7 linked regions of the Homo sapiens genome follow. The protein of the gene in region 6 interacts with the protein of the main gene of each other region in a pairwise test. Each region holds a gene or a part of one and is shown on either strand. Other genes may lie near its edges.

The links.
Region 1: the proteins of FAM9A (region 6) and STIP1 interact in binary tests that used the Homo sapiens proteins (3 or more experiments, as listed by UniProt).
Region 2: the proteins of FAM9A (region 6) and SH3GLB1 interact in binary tests that used the Homo sapiens proteins (3 or more experiments, as listed by UniProt).
Region 3: the proteins of FAM9A (region 6) and TXLNA interact in binary tests that used the Homo sapiens proteins (3 or more experiments, as listed by UniProt).
Region 4: the proteins of FAM9A (region 6) and HOMER1 interact in binary tests that used the Homo sapiens proteins (3 or more experiments, as listed by UniProt).
Region 5: the proteins of FAM9A (region 6) and ESRRA interact in binary tests that used the Homo sapiens proteins (3 or more experiments, as listed by UniProt).
Region 7: the proteins of FAM9A (region 6) and GTF2B interact in binary tests that used the Homo sapiens proteins (3 or more experiments, as listed by UniProt).

What each region holds. Positions count from the first base shown.
Region 1 is NC_000011.10:64,189,171-64,192,670, forward strand, and holds part of STIP1 (stress-induced-phosphoprotein 1), read left to right. Parts: intron 1-3,500. UniProt on the Homo sapiens protein: Acts as a co-chaperone for HSP90AA1. Mediates the association of the molecular chaperones HSPA8/HSC70 and HSP90.
Region 2 is NC_000001.11:86,735,576-86,739,075, reverse strand, and holds part of SH3GLB1 (endophilin-B1), read right to left. Parts: intron 1-3,500. UniProt on the Homo sapiens protein: May be required for normal outer mitochondrial membrane dynamics. Required for coatomer-mediated retrograde transport in certain cells. May recruit other proteins to membranes with high curvature. May promote membrane fusion.
Region 3 is NC_000001.11:32,189,675-32,193,174, forward strand, and holds part of TXLNA (alpha-taxilin), read left to right. Parts: intron 1-380; coding exon 381-575; intron 576-2,636; coding exon 2,637-2,756; intron 2,757-2,982; coding exon 2,983-3,057; intron 3,058-3,500. UniProt on the Homo sapiens protein: May be involved in intracellular vesicle traffic and potentially in calcium-dependent exocytosis in neuroendocrine cells.
Region 4 is NC_000005.10:79,395,635-79,399,134, forward strand, and holds part of HOMER1 (homer protein homolog 1), read right to left. Parts: intron 2,004-3,500; coding exon 1,893-2,003; intron 1,270-1,892; coding exon 1,189-1,269; intron 1-1,188. UniProt on the Homo sapiens protein: Postsynaptic density scaffolding protein. Binds and cross-links cytoplasmic regions of GRM1, GRM5, ITPR1, DNM3, RYR1, RYR2, SHANK1 and SHANK3.
Region 5 is NC_000011.10:64,308,524-64,312,023, reverse strand, and holds part of ESRRA (steroid hormone receptor ERR1), read right to left. Parts: intron 1-3,500. UniProt on the Homo sapiens protein: Binds to an ERR-alpha response element (ERRE) containing a single consensus half-site, 5'-TNAAGGTCA-3'. Can bind to the medium-chain acyl coenzyme A dehydrogenase (MCAD) response element NRRE-1 and may act as an important regulator of MCAD promoter.
Region 6 is NC_000023.11:8,791,384-8,794,883, reverse strand, and holds part of FAM9A (protein FAM9A), read left to right. Parts: intron 1-1,127; coding exon 1,128-1,226; intron 1,227-3,500.
Region 7 is NC_000001.11:88,864,068-88,867,567, forward strand, and holds part of GTF2B (transcription initiation factor IIB), read right to left. Parts: intron 48-3,500; coding exon 1-47. UniProt on the Homo sapiens protein: General transcription factor that plays a role in transcription initiation by RNA polymerase II (Pol II). Involved in the pre-initiation complex (PIC) formation and Pol II recruitment at promoter DNA.

The sequences.
Region 1 (3,500 bases), on a different chromosome or scaffold from region 6:
GCCAATATGGTGAAACCCTGTCTCTATTAAAAATACAAAAATTAGCTGGATGTGGTGGCACGCGCCTGTAGTCCCGGCTACTTGGGAGGCTGAGGCAGGAGAATCGCTTGAACCCGGGAGGCGGACCTTGAAGTGAGCCGAGATTGCGCCACTGCACTCCAGACTGGGTAACAGCGAGACTCCGTCTCAAAAAAAAAAAATAAATAAATAAGCGGACATTGTGGTGCGCGCCTGTGGTCCCAGCTACGTGGGAGGCTGAGGCAGGACAATTGCTTGAACCTGGCTGGTCGAGGTTGCAGTGAGCCAAGATTGCGCCACTGCCCTCCAGCCTGAATGACAGCGAAACTGCATCTCCAAAAAAAAAAAGTTGGACAGATTTTGAATGTTCAGGCTTTTTTTTTTCAATAGGGGCCTTTCAAATCCCACAATGATACACTTCTTACATTTAACCCAACACAGGCGTACAGCCATGTAACACATTCAGCAAAACAGTATTTACTGTTATGTGCACTGTGTGCTGGTATTTTTTTGTCCCATTTGGTCTCTTAAAATGCTGGTCATGACCTACAAAATTGATTTCCTGACCCACTGTTGATCAGTACTCTGTTTGAAAAATGCTTTTCTAAAGCATAGGCAGGAACTTCACCAGCTGCCTCTTGACACCACTTGAGTTTTGTTAACTCTTCGTCTTCTGGCCTCCATCTTGGGCTCTAGGATTTTTTATCCCTTGTTTGCTTAATTTGGCAGGTTCCTTCTGCCCTTGCCTCTGTAAGGTCTCTGATTGATGGAAGTTCCTGATCTCTCTATTTGAGGATTCCAAAATCATTTCTCTCTTTTTTTTTTTTTTCCAAATAGAGTCTCACTCTGTCCTCCAGGTGAGAATGCAGTGGTGCAATCTCGGCTCACTGCAGCCTCCGACTCCCAGGTTCAGATGATTCTCCTGCCTCAGCCTGCTGAGTAGCTGGGACTACAGGCATGCACCACCACATCCGGGCAATTTATTTATTTATTTATTTTTTTGAGACTGAGTTTCGCTCTTGTTGCCCAGGCTGGAGTGCAATGACGCAATCTCAGCTTACTGCAACCTCCGCCTCCCAGGTTCTAGCAATTTTCCTGCCTCAGCCTCCCAAGTAGCTGGGATTACAGGCATGCACCACCACGCCCGGCTAATTTTTTTTGTATTTTTAGTAGAGACGGGGTTTCTCCATGTTGAGGCTGGTCTCGAACTCCTGACCTCAGGTGATCTGCCCACCTTGGCCTCCCAAAGTGCTGGGATTACAGGCGTGAGCCACTGCACCCGGCAGCAGCTAATTTTTGTATTTGTAGTAGAGACGGGGTTTCACCATGTTGGCCAGGCTGGTCTCGAACTCCTGACCTCAGTTAATCTACCCGCCTCAGCTTCCCAAAGTGCTGAGATTACAGCCTAAAATCATTTCTCTTGACAAAACTATTTCTTGCATCAATTTACTGGGTCGTGGGTGGATAATACATAGAATGAGTTAGTAACTTCGGTGACAACTCTATCTCACAGAACGTTTACCTCTTAAAAGTGTATTTTGGCCTGGTGTGGTGGTTCACCTTTGGGAGACTGAGGCAGGAGGGTTGCTTTAGGCCAAGAGTTTGAGACAAGCCTGGGCAATATGGTGAGACACCATTTCTACCACAAAAAGAAAAAAACATTTAGCCAGGCATGGTGACACACACTTGTAGTCCCAGCTACTTAAAAGGCTGAGTTGGCCGGGCGCAGTGGCTCATACCAGTAATCCCAGCACTTTGGGAGGCCAAGGCAGGCAGATCACCTGAGGCCAGGAGTTCAAGACCAGCCTGACCAACATGGAGAAACCCCGTCTCTACTAAAAATACAAAATTAGACGGATGTGGTAGTGCGTGTCTGTAATCCCAGCTACTCAGGAGGCTGAGGCAGGAGAATCGCTTGAACCTGGGAGGCAGAGGTTGTGGTGAGGCAAGATTGTGCTATTGCACTCCAGCCTGGGCAACCAGAGTGAAACTCTGTCTCAAAAAAAAAAAAAAAAAAGGGCTGAGTCAGGAGGATTGCTTGAGCCCAGGAGCTCAAGGTTACAGTCAGCTGTGATCATGCCACTGCACTCCAGGCTGGTAACAGAGTGAGATGCCATCTTTAAAAAAAAATAAATATGGCCAGGCGCGGTGGCTCACGCCTGTAATCCCAGCACTTTGGGAGGCTGAGATGGGTGGATTAAGAGGTCAGGAGTTCGAGACCAGCCTGGCCAACATGGTGAAACTCCATCTCTACTAAAAATACAAAAATTAGCTGGGCGTGGTGGCGGGTGACTGTAATCCCAGCTACTCAGGAGGCTGAGGCAGGAGAATCGCTTGAACCTAGGAGGCGGAGGTTGCCGTGAGGCAAGATTGTGCCACTACACTCCAGTCTGGGGACAGAGCAAGACTCTGTCTCAAAAAATAATAATAATAAATACAATGAGCTTCTCAAGGGGTTGCCTGCCCTCAGGTAGGCTGCTGTGGGGCACCTGACCTTTTGTGGGGCAGCTCAGTAAGGAGAAACCCTTTAGTGAGGACACTGTTCTGACAGGGCCAAGGCCTGCCTCACTTTTTTTTTTTTTTTAATGAAAAAGTAAAATTTAATGTGGAAAATGCAAACTTGGGGAGGGCAGAAAGATCACACACAAGGCTGTCACTTCACACTTGGAGGGTTGCACAGTGGCCCAACAGAGGCACACCTCACTTGCCAGACGGTGGGGCAGGTGGGCAGAGGTGCTCCTCTCTCCCCAGTCAGTTGGGTGGCCGGGCAGAGGCGCTCCTCACTTCCCAGTCGGTGGGGCGGCCAGGCAGAGCTGCCTCACTTTTTAAAACTGCTGTATCCCACCGGGCGCGGTGGCTCACACCTGTAATCCCAGCACTTTGGGAGGCCAAGGCGTGTGGATCACCTGAGGTCAGGAGTTTTAAGACCAGCCTGACCAATATGGTGAAACCCCGTCTCTACTAAAATTACAAAAATTAGCCAAGTGTGGGGGTGTGCGCCTGTAGTCCCAGCTACTTGGGAGGCTGAGGCAGGAGAATCGCTTGAACCTGGGAGGCGGAGGTTGCAGTGAGCCGAGATCGTGCCACTGCACTCCAGCCTGGGTGACAGAGTGAGACTCTGTCTCAAAAAACACAACAAAACAAAACCCCGCTGTATCCTTACTTCTTGCACTTTATATGTTTGAGAAGGGAGAGGTTTAAACCACAGTAGCATTTCTTCATCCTCCATCCCCTTTGTAATGTAATATTTAAGAATGGCAGGAATCAATTTGGGGAGCTAGCTTGACTGTTACCCATTAATGAACATTTATCTATCCTGTGGTGACATGTTGCCACACCAGGAAATGGAGACTGGTTCTTCCCTGATGGGAGGAGATGACAACTATGCCATAGGCAAGCATCTTGCCGCTCCCAAGAAAGAGAAGTCTCCGCTGCCATCCCACAGCCTTTGGGTCACTGGAGCATGTATCAGTGCCACTCCG
Region 2 (3,500 bases), on a different chromosome or scaffold from region 6:
TAAAACTGGGCTTCTAATATAACTGACATACTTCCCAGACCTCCATCCCTGAAATCTTTGCCTCCTCTGGCATTCCCCATTTTAACTATCTACAACTCCCCATTCTTTCAGTTACTTAGGTCAAAAACTTGCAGATGGACGTGGTGGCTCACGCCTATAATCCCAGCACTTTGAGAGGCTGAGGCGGGCAGATAGCCTGAGGCCAGGAGTTCAAGACCAGCCTGGCTAACATGGTGAAACCCCTTTTCTACTAAAAATGCAAAAAATTAGCTGGGCATGGTGGCGCACACCTGTAATCCTAGCTACTTGGGAGGCTGAGGCAGGAGAATCTCTTGAACCCGGGAGGCAGAGGTTGCAGTGAGCCGAAGTTGCGCCATTGTACTCCACCTTGGACTGGAAGAGTGAAACTCTGTCTCTAAAACAAAACAAAACAAAACCTTGCAATAATTCTTGACCTCTTTGTGTCCAATATACATACAGTCTGTCAAGCAAATCCTTCTGGCTTTAAGTCTAAAATACACCCACAGTCACGCCTGTAATCCCAGCACTTTGGGAGGCCGAGGCGGGCAGATCACAAGGTCAGGAGATCGAGACCATCCTGGCTAACACGGTGAAACCCTGTCTCTACTAAAAATACAAAAAATTAGCTGGGTGTGGTGGTGGGTGCCTGTAGTCCCCGCTACTCGGGTGGCTGAGGCAGGAGAATGGCATAAACCCAGATGGAGGAGCTTGCAGTGAGCCGAGATTGCGCCACTGCACTCCAGCCTGGGCAACAGAGCAAGACTCTGTCTCAAAAAAACAAAACAAAACAAAACAAAACAAACAAACAAAAAACAAACAACACCCACAGGCCCACAGGACCTGACCACTTCCATCCTACCTACCACAATTACCCTGATCCAAGCCACTGCCATCTTCTGACTGAATTACTGACTACATTATTGCAATAAGTTTGAAACAGATCAGTCAGCTTCCACCCAACACCTATCCTCAACGTGGCAGCCAGAATGATTCTGTTAAAGCCTAAAATTATGTCACTCTTCAGCTCAAAATTTCCAAAGGCGCCTCATCTCTGAGTAAAGACCAAAGTCGAAGCCCTATATGTTTTGGCTCCCCGTTTCCTCTACTCGTCTCTAGCCAAGCCCTCCTTGCTGTTCCTTGACCATACCAGCTATGTCATGCCCTCAGGGTTTTTGTACTTGCTGCACCCTCTACCTGGAGCATCTTCTCTCAGATGCCTGCATGTGTGCTTTCTCACGTCTTTCTCTACTCCCATCAAAGTAGTTTCCTGCTATATTTTCCGGTACACCATTTTCACCTTCTAATATACTATATAATTTATATACATATTGCTTTTCTGCTCCCTTCTGCCCCCATATAGAATGTAGATTCCAGGAAGGCAGGAATTTTGATTATTTTATTTATATACTATATCCCCCACATCTGGAACAGTACATTTTAAAAATGAAAAGCAAATGTTTCTCTGATGGATAAAGGGTGAAATAGTTTTAAATATAGCTTTTCCTCTCTAAAATTAAGACCACCTGTCCTAGTATCCTTTCCTCAGTGAACTCGGTTCTTCAGTAGGGATTAAATACATACATTTCTGAAGATAAGAAAAAGCTCTATTTATATGAATATGTATATACACATGGCTTTTTTAGTTCTCTAACCATATTTTACTTCCAAATCTACTAGTATGATTTTAGCCTTTGATTAGCCACTGAAGTGTACCTATGTCAATTTTGCAGAGTTAAAGATTTAAAAAATGAACTGAAAGGCCATTTTTACCTTCTAAGAACTTTTATTGATACGTTAAAAAATCATAGCAATTACTCATTCTATAAAAATGTCAATTAAGCCACTGGAGCTTGAAATGCAAAAGCCTTCCAATTATTAAAAAAATTGCTAATCTTGTGACTAGTACTTCTGCTTTCTCATCTTTAAAATATGGATAATAATAGTACCTACCTCATTTGGTGGTGAGGATTATAAAGTTAATAATACACATGAGGTGTCTGGAAGAGCACCTATGCACAACTTAAGCTCAACCAAAGTGATGGCTGTTATTCAGTTACTTCTACTACCTGTTGGTACTGTTATTGCAACTATTAACAATACAATCTGGTTCTCTTCTTCATAAATAGTTTTTGAATGTGTTAGTGTGAAGCTGGATGATTTGTCAAGTTCTATATTTGAATATTTCTATGTATTATCTTAAAAAGCATAACCTGCAACAAATTAAAGAGATAAAACTTCCTCCAATGTCATTGGTCATTAGCAATAATATAATTGAGGGTGGAGAGACAAGCTAGACTTTCTTTTCTAGAATAGTAGCACTGGTTTTACTTTGTATTGCTGGAGCTTATCTCAAAGAGCAGTAATAACGCAACAACTGGATTTTGTTTAAATGGCCAAGTCCTAAGCATAGTGTGGCTTTAAGTAGAATGCGAGTATAAGCAACCCCTATGCCGCACTTCCAGAGTTTCAGGATAAAGTGGAAAAAAGTACTAAGGCTTCTTGGGCTTAAAATAGTTATAATGATGTGAAGATAAAGTGCTGTTCTGCCTTGAGATATTAACACCACTAATAAAACCTCAAATATATAGTTATGTAAATGCTCCTGTATATTCTATTAAAATAACTAATGATTAGGCTACCATTCATTTTTGAGGTTCAAAATTGGTTTCATGGACGTGCTCAATTTTATTCTAGGCCAAGTTTTGAAGTGTTAATGTGCAGAAACAAACACCAAAGTGACTTTATTTACCTTATTCCTTGAAACGATTTTTTGATATTCATCCTTCAAATGCTACATATCGCTCCCCTGCTTTAATGGTTCCTCAATATATAAATTCCAAACTCCTTACAACAACTTACTTTAAAAGCCATTCATGGTATGACCCTGCTTAACTCCTCTAGATTCATCTACCATTCCATTCTTGAACACTATGCTCCAGCCTGAATGGACTACTATCAGTTCCCCGAACTTTCCCTACTCTCTTTCTTCTGGCTTTTTTATAAACATATTCTTCCTTGCTTAGAATATTCATCCCTGTCCCTTTCTTCATCTAGATTATTCCTACCAAGATAACTTCACCTGGGAAACTCTGCTAGATGTACCTCAGTCACAGTTAGATGCCTTCACAATACCAGGCACCTTCTGCTTTTCTGCCTACCACATGGCCTGTCTACCAACGGCTTGCTTTGTATTTCTACCTAGGCTAAGTGTTGTGAGAGCAGAGACCATGTTTGCCCTAAACATTATTTTATTTTCAGTGTCACCTTATAATGTGAGCTCCATAAAGGCAAGCATCTTTGCCTGTTTTGTTTGCTGATATTACCCCACAATATGTAACAGTGCTTGGCACATGGCAGATAGTCAATAAATACGTGATGAATGAGTGATTGAGCTTTGTGTTTTACATACTGTCATTTTGCTTTGAAGTATATTAACATACTCAAAATAATCACATCGGTAGATATGAGGTCTTACGAAA
Region 3 (3,500 bases), on a different chromosome or scaffold from region 6:
GCTGGGACCACAGGTGCACACCATCACGCCGGCTAATTTTTGTATTTTAGTAGAAACGGGGTTTCACCATATTGGCCAGGCTGGTCTCAAACTCCTGACCTCGTGATCCGCCCACCTCAGCCTCCCAAAGTGCTGGGATTACAGGCGTGAGCCACCGCGCCTGCCATGTGCCTGCATTTTTCTAGGGGGAGAATCTCACTTGATGTCACCTGATATACAGAGGGGCCCATTGGAACCCGCATTGCACAACATCCTGGAGTCTGGCTACTCCACGCTTTGGGAGCAGGGAGGGCTGTTGGCAGAGACCATCTGTGGACTAGCTGGGGGACCCTTGTGAGGTAGCAGTGGATGATGGCTCTCGGGCTGACTTCTTTGCCCAGGAAGAAGGTGTGCAGCGGGCCCGGGAGGAGGAGGAGAAGCGCAAGGAGGTGACCTCGCACTTCCAGGTGACACTGAATGACATTCAGCTGCAGATGGAACAGCACAATGAGCGCAACTCCAAGCTGCGCCAAGAGAACATGGAGCTGGCTGAGAGGCTCAAGAAGCTGATTGAGCAGTATGAGCTGCGCGAGGAGGTAAGGGTATCACGGACAGCAGTCATGGCCCAGAAATTGTGAGGTTTTGAGTGTGTGCTAGGCACTGGGACAGTACCTTTTCAGGCTTCATCCCATTCTCCCTTTCTTCCTCCTCCTCCTCCTTGGGAGGAGAGTAATGTTATTCCTCATAGATAAAAAACAGGTGTGGAGAAGAGACTCACTTACAGCCACACAGCCCCAGGTCCACAGTGCCTTGTCCCAAATGACTGGGCCAGGCATCTTTTGGAATTAGAACTATCCACATTTTAGAATGGAGGTACATGTATGGACTGTGTGTTATATAGCACCCTCAGCAGGGCCTTGGGGAAGCCAGACACATTAATGTATTTATGCAGTAGAACTTCCAAATACTCACCTACATTATGGGCTTACAATGATGCAGGTCAAGTCTGGCTGCCAGCTTATGACAATTTCCATTTTCAGAACTTTGTAGAATTTGGAATTGCAGGGGAGGGGTGTACCTGTGATCAGTGATGGACTCCAGAGACTGTGTCCACTGATTCCTTGCTGCTCCTGCCACTCAAAAGGCAGAATTTATCAGGCTGGGCGTGGTGGCTCATGCCTGTAATCCCAACACTTTGGGAGGCCAAAGCGGGCGGATCACCTGAGGTCAGGAGTTCAAGACCAGCCTGGCCAACATGGTGAAACCCTGTCTCTACTAAAAATACAAAAAATTAGCCAGGTGTGGTGGTGCACGGCTGTAGTCCCAGCTACTCAGGAGGCTGAGGCAGGAGAATTGCTTGAACCCAGGAGGCAGAGGTTGCAATGAGCCAAGATTGTGCTACTGCACTCTAGCCTGGGTGATATACCGAGACTCCATCTCAAAAAAAAAAAAAAAAAAAAGCAGGATGTCACTCCCTTTGTCACTGCGTTGGCTGCCACCCCAGGCACTTGAATCTTTGGATCTTCCCTGCCAGTCACCTGGCTGTTCTGGGCGCGTTCTCATCATGAGAAGGGAGACCTGCAGCCCCCTTACAGGGCTGGCAGAGGACCTGCTCTGGATTAGGCCCTTTCCTAGCCCCTGGGGTGTGGCAGTGGGTGAGACCGGGAAGATCTGCCCTCTTAGGTTCATAGGCCAAAGTGATGATCGTGTGTGCAGGACCTAGAGGGCGCTCCCCTGACCCACCCCTTTCCTTGCCATACTTCATCCTCTGGGAACAAAGCTGCTTGTTTGGTTTGAGGGGAGTTGGTTTGGTTCTTATCCCTCAGCGCTGAGACATAGAGGCTTCCTGGGCCACTACAGTGAGACACGAACTTCAAGAATCTGAATACCCCCGTTTTCTCTCCCCGCCAAGGCAAAAAAGGACTTAGTACTACCTGTGGAGAAGGAGGTGCAGGACTACCAGGCCCTGCTGCTTTGCATTTACAGCCCTCCCCAGACAGACACAGGCACCCTCATCATACCCAAACTGGACTTACCTGCTAGGCACCTTCCCTTCCCCATCCAAAAAAATGGAGTTATTTTCCCTTATTTCAGCAAGTCCAGTTGATTTTACCTTTGAAGTAGCACCTGAGTCCTTCACCTTCTCTCCATCCCTTCTCTCTCACCTGACACAGGTCTGCAGCGCTCCTCTAGTAGGCAGGACAGCCATTCCTTGGGGATGCACATGTCTAGTCTTTGCCTAGATATGGCAAGTCTTTGCCAACTGAGCTAGGCTGTTATGTTCTTAGAGGCATTGTTTTTGCCCATTCTTCCCATTTACAAGAGAATCAGGGACACAGAAGTGAGGGCTTCCAGCCCCATAGGTGATCAATCCTGGGGTCAGAGATTTGAGTGTGTTTATTGCTTGCCTTCTTGGGAGCAGATTCCATCCATAAACCATGTGCTTACCAAGGTCTGACTCACTGGGAGAGAAACGACGTGAGGTTGGAAAGCTGACCTTCCAGAGACTTGGGGCCCATGTTGTGTGGTACACATGGGAGTCCATCATATCAGATTGAGATGGGGGGCTGGGCAAAGTGCCCTGGTCTGTGGCTGTGGGGCTACCCTGAGAAAGGGAGCGCCTGACAAGCCGACTGCTCCCACCATCTTTGTTGCAGCATATCGACAAAGTCTTCAAACACAAGGACCTACAACAGCAGCTGGTGGATGCCAAGCTCCAGCAGGCCCAGGAGATGCTAAAGGAGGCAGAAGAGCGGCACCAGCGGGAGAAGGATTTTGTGAGGCTCAGGCCCCAGGGTTGGGGTGGGGGTGGGAGGAGACAGGCTGGGCTCTGGCTCAGCTCATAGCCGGGTTATATGGGAGAAGTCTGGCCAGACCAGGCACAGATTCCTTGAGTACCAGTCTGAGAGCAGGAAGCCTCAGTGGGTCTGGTGCTTGTGGCTAAAAACCAAACATAGCCCCTGGGGGCTTCTGACAGGATCTGGGGTTCTGTCTTGGAAATAGCTCCTGAAAGAGGCAGTAGAGTCCCAGAGGATGTGTGAGCTGATGAAGCAGCAAGAGACCCACCTGAAGCAACAGGTGAGAGCATATAACCTGACCCTGTGCCTTCAAGTTTCCCTCACTGGGCCCCATCCTGGGGGTAGTGAAATGGGACCCTCATTCTAGGACTGGCTGTGTCCTGGCTGCTATGACGCCTTGGTTGAGCCTTTGTTCTCTCCGGACCTGCACAGTACCTATGTGGTGGTGACCAGGTAGTTAGGTGGGCTCAGAGGACTTCATTTGTAGCTCAGAAATGTATTGCTTTTGAGGAGGTAGGAACAGAAGAGTTTGAAAATCAACATAAAGGCAAAATAAAAGTCACCCTAAGTCTCCTACTTTCCAGGCTTAGCATTTTGGATTATATCCTTCCAAATATATAGCTTTGCTTTGTTTTAAGGAAAAATAGTATCTCAATAGAATTACTGGTCAGAGAGTCAAGGACGGGTCTGAGTGTGTTGACCAGAGTGCCTCCCAGAGAAACC
Region 4 (3,500 bases), on a different chromosome or scaffold from region 6:
TGTTTATTTCATGAAGGATTATTATGAAGGGGTTTAAAGCCCATGTCTTTGACTACTAAAATAATGTATTTTGACCATTATCTTAGTGGTCAAAGATTTGGATTTTAAAATTTGACTGTCTCCATTTAAATATAGGTTGGACAAGTTAACCTCTCCAAGCTTCAGTTTCTTCATCTGGGTTATTATGACTGTTACATGGATTAAATGCATAATACAGGTAAAGTGCTAAGCCCAGTGTCCGATATGTTGCAAGCACTCAATAAATGTTGGCTGTTCTTATTATAATCTAGGTCCTCTTTCCAATCCTGGGCTTTCAGGTCCCTCTTATTATGCCTTATCTCAGATTCCTCACTCTATACATATACTTATTTCTACTCCAAAGTCATCCTAACCCTTCTTTATTGAGGCACCTAACGCTGAGGGTGTAAGAAAACTGCCTGAGCTGGCAAGAGAAGACTTTGGTAATAAATTCTGAGAAATCTTCCCTTACCATGTCTGACTATCACTGACACATGATGTTTTTTGTACACTGGAATCAGGAAGAATACTATTTATGCAGAAAAAAGTGAGTAAAATTAATTACACTGAAGAACGAAAAGTACTAACTTGTGTTCCATTAGGGCACAACTATTGGTATAATTCATACATTAGTACATTGTAAAATAATAATAATAATAATAATAATGTTCCCAAATTGAATGAAATCAATTTGCAAATTTTTCTTTAAATTCAGGGTTTTCTTTCTTTCTCTCTCTCTTTCTTTTTATTAAGACAGGATCCCACTCTGTTCCAGGCTGCAGTATAGTGGTGTGATTATGACTCATTGCAGCCTCAACCTCCTGGGCTCAAGTGATCCTCCTCCTCAGCATCCCAAAGTGCTGAAATTACAAGTATGAGCCACCATGCCCAAACCCAGAGTATTTTTTTTTAATTAAAAGTAGAAATTTCCAAAAGGATTTACTAAATAATTTACAATTTATAAATGACCATCTATGATAATTATAAGCTACATAGATGAAGTTATCAAGTAACTTTTTAAAAATCAAAGATTAGGCATGAATCAGAAGTCCCGGAAAAGAAAAATGACCAAAAACCTACAAAATGGAGTCTCAGAAAAAAAGTCAGTGCTATGTGAAAAAATGATGCCTTTCTATGCAGAAGTGAATAACAATTTTTACTACAGCTCACCTGTAGTTTCTGAGTCAAAGAATCCCTCTGTTCTTGTAGTTCTCTGGCATTATCAATTTCTTGTTTTAACCTTTCTATTTCCTAGAAAAGACAGAGCAATGTCTTAACATTCAAACTATATCAAGGCAAGGGAAGGTCTTGTTTTTCCCTGAAATTATTGTTCTAGTTCTTAGAAAAAGATGATTTTAAAAACATTCCTTCATATTGACTTTTAGAGGGATGAATTCATCTTTATATGTATGTTGTCTAGAACAATAATCTTAAGCAACAGCAACAAGTCTAACTTGGTGCTTCTGGTACAGCAATGCTTAGAAATAACAACCTGAACATTTTAATGTTGCTTCAAGCTTTGTGGATATAATTCTTTCCTAAGATATTAAAGTTTTGACTGGAACCCAGAGAAACCAACAGCTTTTAAAATCCATTTAACCCCTAATGATTTTCTGTTGACTGTATAAATGCAACTCTCATCTGGAAGGCAACAGGTGGTATCTCGGTCTGACTGCCTCACCACAGTTCATAATAACAGAAATAAGGATAGAGAAAATATGAGCAAGCTTAATACCACTCAAGAAAAATTTCATCCTAAAAAAGAGGTCACAACCTGACTTTATTCCATAAAATACTTTTAAATTTGACATGGAATCTAATACTTTGTACAAACATGTTAGCTAGATTACAGATGAGTAAAAAGCAGCAAATACCTCTTCCTTCAGTTTCAGTGTCTCTTCCAGTTCTTGTATTGTCTGATTTAATTCTGTCTTATGAGTATGTACTGCATTTGCTTGGCTACTAACACATTCAAGTTCAGTCACCTAAAATTAAATGAGAACACAGATTAACTTAAATTTCAACTTTAAAGAGTTTCTTGCTAAATACATAGCCCCAAATAAGTGAATAGTATATTCTGAATAAATATATAAAAATTAATTTTGAGAAATATTAAGACACTCAAGGTAGAGTGAATAGATTCTTCAAAGATATAAAACTAGGAAAAGGGAAAAATAATCATTTACATGGCTTAGTCATAGAAAGGTTAGGATAACTTAAATTAAGTGATTAATGACAGTAGAGAATCCCTATAATGAAAGTCTTCTGTAAAAATTTCTTCCAAAAACATATTCAAGATCAGATATGACCATCTGTCCTTCATCTGTAGCCTTCAAATTCAATATGGGTTCTGAAAACTGGCCTTGCAGAAGTGAGAATTTTTTCAAATACATTTCCAACATGTAAGAGAATCTGGAAGAGAAAATAGGCTTAAAATACAACTTAAATCATTAGATACTGGAATGACTTTACATCAACAGTGTCTCTTACGGGTAAGATAAAATTTTGTTAGTCAATAAGAATTTACTGGGGGCCCAAAGAGTAATATAACTTTTAATGAGCACTTGGTATTTTTTGAGAGAACAGAGAGGGGCACTGTCCTTCAAGTTATACCATCTAAAACTAGAATCAGCAATAGACAGAAGTCAATATAAATACACACACACACACACACACACATGCACACACACACCCTATCACAGTTCTTTACATATATCATGTGCTCATAAAATTTTGGTTTACTAGAAGATAGTAAATTCTAGACTATTAAAGAAACAGAGTAAATCCCTCTCCCTGGCATTTTCCAAATATCAAATTACCCTCTACATTCTGTGATTCTCTCTCTTATATAATTTTCTTCCTTTCTTCTCATGTACTAATAGCCTCGTTACAAACCCTTATCATCCAGACCTGAACAAAACCAACAGCCTCCCAGTGGACTTAATTATAATCTTTTTTTTGTCTATTCTGCAAATTGCTAAGATTCATCTTTCATTCCTGTGATTCCACCATTCAAAGACTTTCAGCAGCTCATCTTTTTTACGGTATCAGATCTAAACGCTCAGATCCTCTGTATATTGGCCCCAACCTTCTCAACCATCCACACTGCCCAAGATACTCAGTGAGTACTTCCAACTAAAAGCAGGCAAATCTCCTTGTCCTAAGAACAAGTGATATTCATTCCCAACTTGTTGATTTAACTAGAATGTCCTCTCTTGCCTCTGAAAACCACTCGGACCTAACCGAACCCTTAACTCTTAGCTCAGCATGTGCTTTCTCCAGAAAGCCATTCCTATCTGCTCAAGTCTTCAAGGCTCTCCTCTGGTTCACAAAACCAAGCATCTGTTCAAAAATCTTGGGAATTATTTCACTTATTGTTTAATGTGTATTTGTTTTGTCTCATTATATAATAAATTCCTTAAAGGGAGTTCCAATTCTGATAATGATGAAATAGTTTTTATTGGAGTAACTTTCCTATAGGT
Region 5 (3,500 bases), on a different chromosome or scaffold from region 6:
CTGGGCAACCAGAGCGAAACTCTGTACCAAAAAAAAAAAAAGGCCAGGCGCAGTGGCTCACGCCTATAATCCCAGCACTTTGGGAGGCCGAGGCAGGCAGATCACGAGGTGAGGAGTTTGAGACCAGCCTGACCAACACGGTGAAACCCTGTCTCTACTAAAAATACAAAAATTAGCTGGGCGTGTGCCTGTAGTCCCAGCTACTCGGGAGGCTGAGGGAGAACAATCGCTTGAACCTGGGAGGCGGAGGTTGCAGTAAGCTGAGATCGTGCCACTGTACTATAGCCTGGCAACAGAGTGAGACTCTGTCTAAAAAAAAAAAGAGGCCGGGAGCGTAATCCCAGCACTTTGGGAGGCCGAGGCGGGTGGATCACGAGGTCAGGAGATCGAGACCATCCTGGCTAACATGGTGAAACCCAGTCTCTACTAAAAATACCAAAATTAGCCGTGCGTGGTGCCATGCGCCTGTAATCCCAGCTATTGGGGAGGCTGAGGCAGGAGAATCGCTTGAACCCGGGAGGCGGAGCTTGCACTGAGCCGAGATCGCGCCACTGGACTCTAGCCTGGGCAACAAAGCGAGACTCCGTCTCAAAAAAAAAAAAAAAAAGACAAGCCCTCTGGAGCCTCAGAACCAGCACCTCCCCTTCCTGCACATACCACAGCGGTAATAAGACAAGTCTGTGCAACTCACTGTTGCCCAGCTCTCCCCTCTGCCAGGATGTAAACTGCCTGAGGGCAGAAACAGCCCTGCTTCAGCCCCAGCTATGTCCCCAAGGCCTGGAACACTGGCCAGGACAGCAAAGAACAGGTCTGTGCCGAACAGGGACTCTGGCTACCACATACCTTTATGACCTTGGGCAAGTCCCATACCTAACCCCTTGAACCCTCAGTTTCCCAGCTGTAAAAGTGCCCCACAGAGTTGGGTCGTGAGAATTAAAGGGGATAATATGGTCAAAACATCCAGCATGGTTCATGACACCTAAGTGCTCAATATACAAGTCCTATTCACAGCCAGCACACAATAAATATTTGTCAATAGTCAACATACAGTGAGGGGCCCCAGGGTAGGTAGGAGATACCCGCACCCTGGCCGGCTGGCTCACTGTTCTTCAGAGTGGGAAGGGTGCACAAAGTTTAAGATTGGTGGATTTTGGCCAAGTTAAAACTTGCTGGATTGGCGGGGTGCAGTGGCTCACACCTATAATCCCAGCACTTTGGAAGCCCGAGGAGGGCAGATCGCCTGAGGTCAGGAGTTTGAGGCCAGCCTGGCCAACATGGTGAAACCCCATCCCTACTAAAAACACAAAAATTAGCCGGGCATGGTGGCAGGCGCCTGTAATCCCAGCTACTTGGGAGGCTGAGGCAGGTGAATGGCTTGAACCCGGGAGGCAGAGGTTGCAGTGAACCACGACTGCAGGCCGTTGCACTCCAGCCTGGACAACAAGAGCAAAACTCCATCTCAAAAAAAAAAAAAAAAAAAAAAAAAACCTGGCCAGGAGCAGTGGCTCACGCCTGTAATCCCAGCACTTTGGGAGTCCAAGGCAGGTGGATCTCGAGGTCAGGAAATCAAGACCATCTTGGCTAACACGCTGAAACCCCGTCTCTACTAAAAGTACAAAAAATTAGCCAGGCGTGGTGGCGGGCACCTGTAGTCCCAGCTACTCAGGAGGCTGAGGCAGGAGAATGGTGTGAACCCGGGAGGCGGAGCTTGCAGTGAGCCGAGATCGTGCCACTGCACTCCAGCCTGGGCGACCACACGAGACTGTCTCAAAAAAAAAAAAAAAAACGTGCTGGAATGTCACAATCAGTCATTCAGCGTCTGTCCAAAGTTCGGTGTTATTAGTAATAAGCAGAGGAAGCAGTCTAACATTGAAGAGCTCAGCTCTGGACCTATACTGACCCAAGTTCAAATCTTGGTTCTGCCATTTCCTAGTTGTGAGACTTCAACAAAGTTTCAAATGCCTCTCTTAGTTTCAGTTATAACAGTACTGACACCTTATAGGGTTGCTGTGGGGACTAACTGAGATCATAAAAGAATACAGTGCCTAGCACAAGGTAAGCACTCAAGATTTTTTTTTTTTTTTTTTTTTTGATACGAACTCTCACTCTGTCACCCAGGCTGGGAGTGCAGTGGCACGATCTTGGCTAACTCCAACCTCTGCCTCCTGGGTTCCAGCAATTCTCCTGCCTCAGCCTCCTGAGTAGCTGGGACTACAGGCACCCACCACGACACCTGGCTAATTTTTGTATTTCTAGTACAGACAGGGTTTCACCATGTTGGCCAGGCTGGTCTCGAACTCCTGACCTTGTGATCCTCCCATCTTAGCCTCCGAAAGTGCTGAGATTACAGGTGTGAGCCACCACACTTGGCCTTTTTTTTTTTTTTTTTAATTATACGTGTTATAGCCCCCAAAGTAACCAATGGTTACATAAAAGCAGAAATAACGGAAATAATAGGCCCTTCCCAGGCAATGCTTAATGTCAGCATCTTGCTCATTCCCCCAAATTCTGATAAGCTTTCCTGAGTGAGAAAAAAATTAGTGACTTTTAAGAGCAGACATGCCTGTAAGTCCTTTTTTTTTTTTTTTTGAGATGAGAGTGTCTCATTCTGTTGCCCAGACTAGAGTGCTGTGGCATGATCTCAGCTCACTGCAACCTCTGCCTCCCGGGTTCAAGCAATTCTCCTGCCTCAGCCTCCCAAGTAGTGGGATTACAGGCACTCACCACCACGCCCGGCTAATTTTTGTATTTTTAGTAGAGACGGGGTTTTACCATGTTGGCCAGGCTGGTCTCGAACTCCTGACCTCGTGATCCGTCTGCCTCAGCCTCCCAAAGTGCTGGGATTACAGGCCATGAGCCACCAAGCCCAGCGTTTTTGGGTTTTTTTGTTTTTGTTTTTGTTTTTGTTTTTTGAGGTGGAGTTTCACTTTTGTTGCGCAGGCTAGAGTGCAATGGCGCGATCTGGGCTCATTGCAACCTCTGCCTCCCAGGTTCAAGCAATTCTCCTGTCTCAGCCTCTTGAGTGGGATGACAGGCGCATGCCACCATGCTTGGCTAATTTTTGTATTTTCAGTAGAGACGGGGTTTCATCACATTGGTCAGGCTGGTCTCAAACTCCTGACCTCAGGTGATCCGCCCGTCTCGGCCTCCCAAAGTGCTGGGATTACAGGCATGAGCCACCGCGCCCAGCCTTTTTTTTTTTTTTTTTGAGACGGAGTCTCACTCTGTCGCCCAGGCTGGAGTGCAGTGGCGTGATCTTGGCTCACTGCAACCTCCGCCTCCTGGGTTCACGCCATTCTCCTGCCTCAGCCTCCCAAGTAGCTGGGATTACAGGCGCCCGCCACCATGCCCAGCTAATTTTTTGTATTTTTAGTAGAGACAGTGTTTCACCGTGTTAGCCAGGATGTTCTCAATCTCCTGACCTCATGATCCGCCCGCCTCGGCCTCCCAAAGTGCTGGGATTACATGAGCCACAGTGCCCGGCCTTTTTTTTTTTTTTT
Region 6 (3,500 bases):
AAAGAAGTTAAAGTGAGCCCGGTTGGCATATTTGTGCAAAAGCAGCTGTAGGGTTGGAATTTCCTGGGTTGGGGTGTAGCTGCGCACGTTGATAGAAGGAGAGTTGGGCAGGGCATAGATGCAGGGATGGGGATATGATGACTGGCTGTGGAATTTCAGCTGGGACTGAGTTACCTGAGCACATGGGGGTGGGCAATGGGCAGTGAAAAGTGTTCCATTCAGTGGGTGTCGGGTCTCAACAGACTCCTGAGCTGTAGTACTGAAGTGAGTGACCTACAGTGGCAGGAAGGTAGTGGCTGTATGTTGGGAAGATGGAGAAACAGCTGAGTGCAGTGGTCAAGGGCTGGGACACTGCAGCCCCACTGCTTGTAATTCAACTCCAGCTTGACGATTGCTAGCTCGGGAACCATGGGCAAATTATTTATCTCTGTGCCGAAATTTCCTTATCTGCAAAAGGAGACACGGTAAGAGAACTTATGTCAGAGTTATTTGGAGGATTGAAAGGTTCCTGTGTAATGGGTTTATTTAAATTTTTCAGGATGTGATCTGACCCATGATTGCTCTTTATCATTGCTATTATTAATATTATGTAGATGTTGCAGTCATTGGGAATGATAAAATCTAGGGGATGACTGTATAAGTGAGTGCCACGTAGAGGAGAGGAGAACACTGTTGTTGGAGATTAGGTCAAGGTGCAGAAAGGCAATCATTATTGGAAGGTTCATCCGTGTGCATACTGAAATGACCAAGATTTATTACCTGTTTAAAATCTTAGTAAGAAAGAATGTTTCTTAGTTAATTTCTGTATATATCTTACCCATCTGTGGTCAACAAATTATAGGAAGGGTCGTCAAATACTCTACATTCAAAATCAAGAATTAAGACATATGTGTTGATTATGTATGTAGAAGAAAGAAAATTCCTTAATCACTGATGAAAAAGGTTATTATATCATTTTAGCATATGGGTGGTGAACACAGTTGTTTAAAATTGGTCATAAACATTGTTTAAAAGAAAGTGTTAAGAAGTATAGATTTAAAGAGTATTCCTATAAAGCTAATGCAGAATTATGTTTTGTAAGTATTAAAAATTACCCAATTTTCATCACTATTTTTTTGTGCTTCTAGAAAGCATTTCAAGAAAAACAGAAGAGGTGGCAACAACCTACAGGTGTTAGGAGCTGGAGGCTGAGAGAGATGAAGCCGCTACTTGAGCAATTACTAAAGGTCTGTTCTATTTGGTAACATAATACATTATAAAATACAACACGTGCATAACAGAAGAAAGTCTGTTTGTTTCCGAATGTATGGAAAGACATTTTGGTTATGCATTTTAAATTACTTACCATTTTCACTTTGAATGTATTGTTCCAAATTTAACATAACTGGTAAATGTATTTTTAGGATTCGTGAATAGTTTTGTGGGAGTTATTTAGAACAGGAAAAGGTAAATTGGAAATTTTACCTGGAAATATACATCTTGTGTATATTGTTAACGCATTGACACATTTATGCCGGAGGCTGCACATTTTTTGTGTGTGAAGAAACAGACCTTGGCTATGTTCTTGAGCGGTAGGAGATACATGATTCCCACAAGCTTAGCGTTCCAATAATGGAACACTAGGCATAAATGGGTTTTAATGAAGATTTTATTTTCAGTTTTCAGGACATCAATGACACATCTATGGTGGAAGGCAGGAAGACCATAAATCCTTTCTGGATGTCTTTTTTACTTGTGTTGTTTCAAGAGTTTTAGTTAAATAGGAAGTAGGCAAGTGTAACTACTGAGTGTCTCTTTTATTTCCTGCTGTAATACAGGAGTGTTTTATGGCATATTCACTTTCAAAATTATCAGCGACTAGTAATGGTTTTACATGACAATTTGTAGTCATAAGAGATGGTTCAGATGTATAACAGAATGGGAAAGCCAGCAAATTATTAACACGTTGTGAATTGTGAATTATCTGCTGTCGTATAGCACATTAGCAAATTGTCATCAATGACCTCTTCTTCATGTAGATGTACATTATTTAGGTAACAATGGAATTCCCTTCTGGGAGGTAAGGTATTCTTTTTAATAACCTTGTGAAAAGACATGTTCATATGTCACTCCTCTACACTAACTGAGATGTGTTAAATAAACTGAGAAAAGAGTTTGAAAATAAAATTTTCAAGCAACTTGAGAATGATCTATACACAAAACAGTTATTTAAATAGAAGTCACAAGTAGAGAAAATGTTGCTATAATGTTCACCAGAAACCATTTATTAATTGGTATGAACATGAGACTAGAAGTTTTCCTGTCAATGTTAATGCTACATGTTACCACTTAGGGTAGGAACTTTGCTATCATCTTGGACTCTTCTAAGTCCCTTATCCTTCCCATGCAGTTATCATGAGGCAAGTTTTACCTCTGTAATGGCCCTTAAATTTCTTTTTTTAAAATTCCCACCGCAGCTGCCCTAGTTCAAGACCTCATTCTTCCTTGCTTGTACTATTAAACTCTTTTCTGAGTTCTCTCTTCTCTTCTGAGCCATCCTTCATTGATCGGCAATATTATCTTCCTAAAACCCTCCCCTTCCTAAAATGCTTCCTAGCCCTTCCCTCTTCCCAGCCTGTCAGTGATGCCCCGTCTCAGTTCTTAGATATTCAGAGACTCTCCCCTTTACATGACCCCCTCTTAGGCTTGCCGCCCTCTGTCTTTGCTCCTGCCTATCCAGGTTGACAGCTTTCCCTGAAGGAATTCACTGTTACTCTTATGCTTTTCTCATGCTCTTCCCTCACAATGCTTTAAAAAAATTTTTTTTTGACTAAGACCAATTTAAACCTTTTGCCAACTAAGTCAACATACGTCTCCATTTTTGGCTACATGTCTGAGTGAGTTGCCCTTCCATAGCAGTTATACAATTTTTGTATTAATTTTTTTTATTTGTGCATTTGCTCATGTCACAGGATTATGGAAGAGATTGTGCTTACATTTTTTACATCTTCCTTAGCATTAACATACACCATTTTCAGGAGTAGGAACTGTTGAACTATTTGTTGAGGGAATAGTATATATTTCAAACATAGTTACATTTTTCTCTAACTTGATGAGGTCATATCACCAACCATTTTATCCCTTCAATGGAAACCACTTTCCGTAGACTATTGCTGATAATACATGGGTCACTACCTGCTGAAAAAATATATTTCATGGTAAGCCTGCCTGACTTTTTCTGTCTTTGCTCCATCTTGACCTTAAGATGCTCATCAACCCATTTTATTCAAGCAAAGTACATGACAATTGGACCTGCTAAAATAATATTTCACTGAAATCTGGCATTAAAAAATTTAAGTGGGTATTTGGAGCTCCATGTATTGGTTACAGTTTTTTTCAAATTGAAATAAATAACCAGCATCCTTTGAATATTAAAAGCTGTTTCCTTTTGACATCTGATTAACCCTGTTTAAAACGTGAGATGTAAAGTGGTGGTTTGTCAGTGAACTAGACTTTTTCTT
Region 7 (3,500 bases), on a different chromosome or scaffold from region 6:
ATTGCTGAAAGTTCGCCATTCAGATCCCACATCAATAACCCGGTCACCTAAGAATATAAGCACATATCTGAATCATTTTGTCAAGATAGGGTTTACTTAACTACACTGTCCAATGCCCAACTAAGCCATTTTATTCCCAGGAAATCTCAACATGGACATCTAGGACCAAGCTTAAATATCACATTTCAGACATTTGTCCTAAAGCATTCCTTTAACTATTGTGCCAATCTAACAATAATCCTCTTGAAACATTATGCTATGATATTCTAACTCTTGGAAGAAAAAGTATTAGTCAAAAGTAGCAAAGTACAGCTATTCATATGTGATGCAAAGGTAAACCAATGTAATAATGATTAAGAACCAGATTTTGCACAAAATTTGCAATAGGCATGGGAAAAAAAGAGAAAACATTTTTTAGAATGGTATTAATGCAAATAATTTCATATTAAAATGTCACTAAGTTTGCGTGGGAAATGCTTCGCAGAAAATAAGCCTAAGCTTCTGTTTCAAAGTAACAATCTGATGAAAAACATACCTGGCCAAATAATTTATACAGAATAAACCTCAAGCCTAGAATCCGTGAGAAGAAAGCCTGGTAGGCAAACTTTTCTCTTTAAGCAAAGAGGCAGCATCTAAATATATCATGTCCAATAAAAGCAGACACAAGTAAACCTTATTATTACTGTTTTGGTGAGAAAGCTCAATGTCTGGCAATACCTTCAGAGTAGACAAAAGTTAACACTGAATACTTAACACATACTACTCACTGTGCCCTTTTGTAAATGTTCTCACTTAATCTTCACAGCCTTATAAAGGTAGGTACCAATTTTATTGCCACTTTACAAATAAGATTAACTAGCCTAAGATCACATAGCTAGAACTGAAACGCACATCAGAGTTTGTTCTACACTCCAATTGTAAAACATGACCTTTTTCAGTGAAGTGTGATGAAGCTGAAAGTAGGAAGGAACCAGACCATTTCATCTTTGTGTATACACAGCAAACAGAAAGAAACAAACGGCAGAAACCAGTTACTGTAGCAATTAGAAGTTACGGTACTAGCAGTCAATTAATATAATAGTCAGGGGTGTGAACTCTGCCCTTTGCTGCTTAGCCTTGGAATATTACTTCATTTCTATGTCTTTATTACCTCAGCTCTAAAATTCTCTTTAACCTCATATTTTAAAGATTATAAAGACTAAGCTATTATAATACCCATGTACAGTGCATGTAAAGTGCTTAAAAAGTAGTACTAAGTGCTCAATATTCACTATTTACTGCTATGAAAATTAGAAAGATAGCAAATATTCTGAGTTTCTCCTTTTTTGTGGGGATGATAAGGGAGACGCATCAGTTTAAAACATTAATCTCCAGCCGGGTGTGGTGGCTCAGGCCTGTAATCCCAGCACTTTGGGAGGCCGAGGCAGGCGGATCACCTGAGGTCAGGAGTTTGAGACCAGCCTGACCAAGATGGAGAAACCCCGTCTCTACTAAAAATACAAAATTAGTTGGTCATGGTGGCACATGCCTGTAATCCCAGCACTTTGCGAGGTCCAGGCGGGCTGTCACCTGGTTGGGAATTTGAGATCAGCCTGACCAACATGGAGAAACCCTGTCTCTACTAAAAATACAAAATAGCTGGGCGTGGTGGCACATGCCTGTAATCCCAGCTACTCAGGAGGCTAAGGCAGGAGAACTGCTTGAACCTGGGAGGTGGAGGCTGTGGTGAACTGAGATCGCAACAAGAGGGTAACAAGAGTGAAACTCCATCTCAAAAAAAAAACAAAACAAAACAAACAAACAAACAAAAATTAATCTCCATAGAAGACTTTAAAAGCTTCCAAGTGCTCCGCTAAGTATTTGATCAGGAGGACAGCAAAGAACAGAGAAAACGGAAGGAATTCCACCTAGACTATGCTAACTTTTTAATTTTTTATATAAAAATTAATTTAAATGCTCATAAACAACCAGAGTATAGTGATCATATAATCTTAGTGATAGATTTAAAAAAAGGCTGGGCATGGTGGTTCACACCTGTAATCTTAGCACTTTGGGAGGCTTAAGCAGGAAAATCACATGAGCCCAGGAGTTCAAGACCAGCCTGGGCAACATGGTGAAACCCTGTCTCTACAAAAAAATACAAAAACAAATTAGCTGGGCGTGGTGGCATGTGCCTGTAGGGAGGCTGAGGTGGGAGGATCACCTGAGCCCAGGAGGTTGAGGCTGCAGGGAGCCATGATTACACCACTGCACTCCAGCCTAGGTGAGGGAGACCCTGTCTAAAGTAAGCAAATGCTCAAGAGAATGATTCATTTCTGAAGCCTCTGACAAAATTTTTCTTTTTTCTTTTCCTTTTTTTCAGACAGGGTCTCACTCTGTTGCCCAGGTTTGAGTACAGTGGTGCAATTTTGGCTCACTGCAGCTTTTGCCTCTGGGGCTCAAGCAATACTTCCACCTTAGCCTCCTGAGCAGCTACAGATATGCACCACCACTGCCTGCCTGGCTAATTTTTGTATTTCTTGTAGAGATGGGGTTTTGCCATGTTGCCCAGGCTAGTCGTGAACCCCTAGGCTCAAGTGATCCACTCACCTCGGCCTCCCCAAGTGCTGGGATTACAGGGGTGGGCCACCATGCACAACAGAAAAACTTTTCTTTAAACAACTGAATCACCAAGGTAAAAGCGGATTATCAGTTGGACTACCATGTGTCCACATTACAAAGGGATTGAGATTAGAGGCAGAGTTCCCATGTGCCATCCCTGTATGCAAGGAGAACACGCAAGGAAGGCAGAAGCAGGACAGTAAGTTAGAAGGCAATTTTAATACATCACACATTGAGCAGGTGGCCCGAAACAAGGAGAAAAGCGTTAGATGGATGGCATTACAAGGATTTATCTGTTTCCTCTTCCTCATAATAAACATCACTAAACTTAGGAAGCAGTTTGAATTATGCAGATTTTAAAAAGATACTTAAAAGTATCATAAATTGTCATTGTGCACTGAAACCTTACCAAACCACTGTGCAGTGAGTACTATTCACCAACAAGCCCATGTCTCAAAGAGATCACACTAAAGAGATCAATTTTTCTTCCTTTTTACAAAATATTTGCTCACTAAAAGATACGTTAGAAAAAAATTACCTGCATTCCCAATACCCAATGACCACTATATTTTCATATATGCTCTGTGTTTTTCGTTCATATGTATGCACCTACGTTTTCCTAAAATTTAGATACTGTGCCTGTTTCATGACAAGCTCTTTTCATTAAATTTATCATAAACACCAGCATGGTATTTTTAGACAGAATTTAGTCCCTTTAATAGCATCCACCAATTAAAGTGATACCATGGTGTTCCCATGCACTTATGTCCAAAGACAGAAAAGACAATCTAACTTTCCTATTTGGCAAAATAAAAACACAAACATGCATAGAACAAAAATAACCGTGGCCTTCAAACCCAGAGTTACTAAATTTTAAGCTAAAAAAAATCAACAAATGT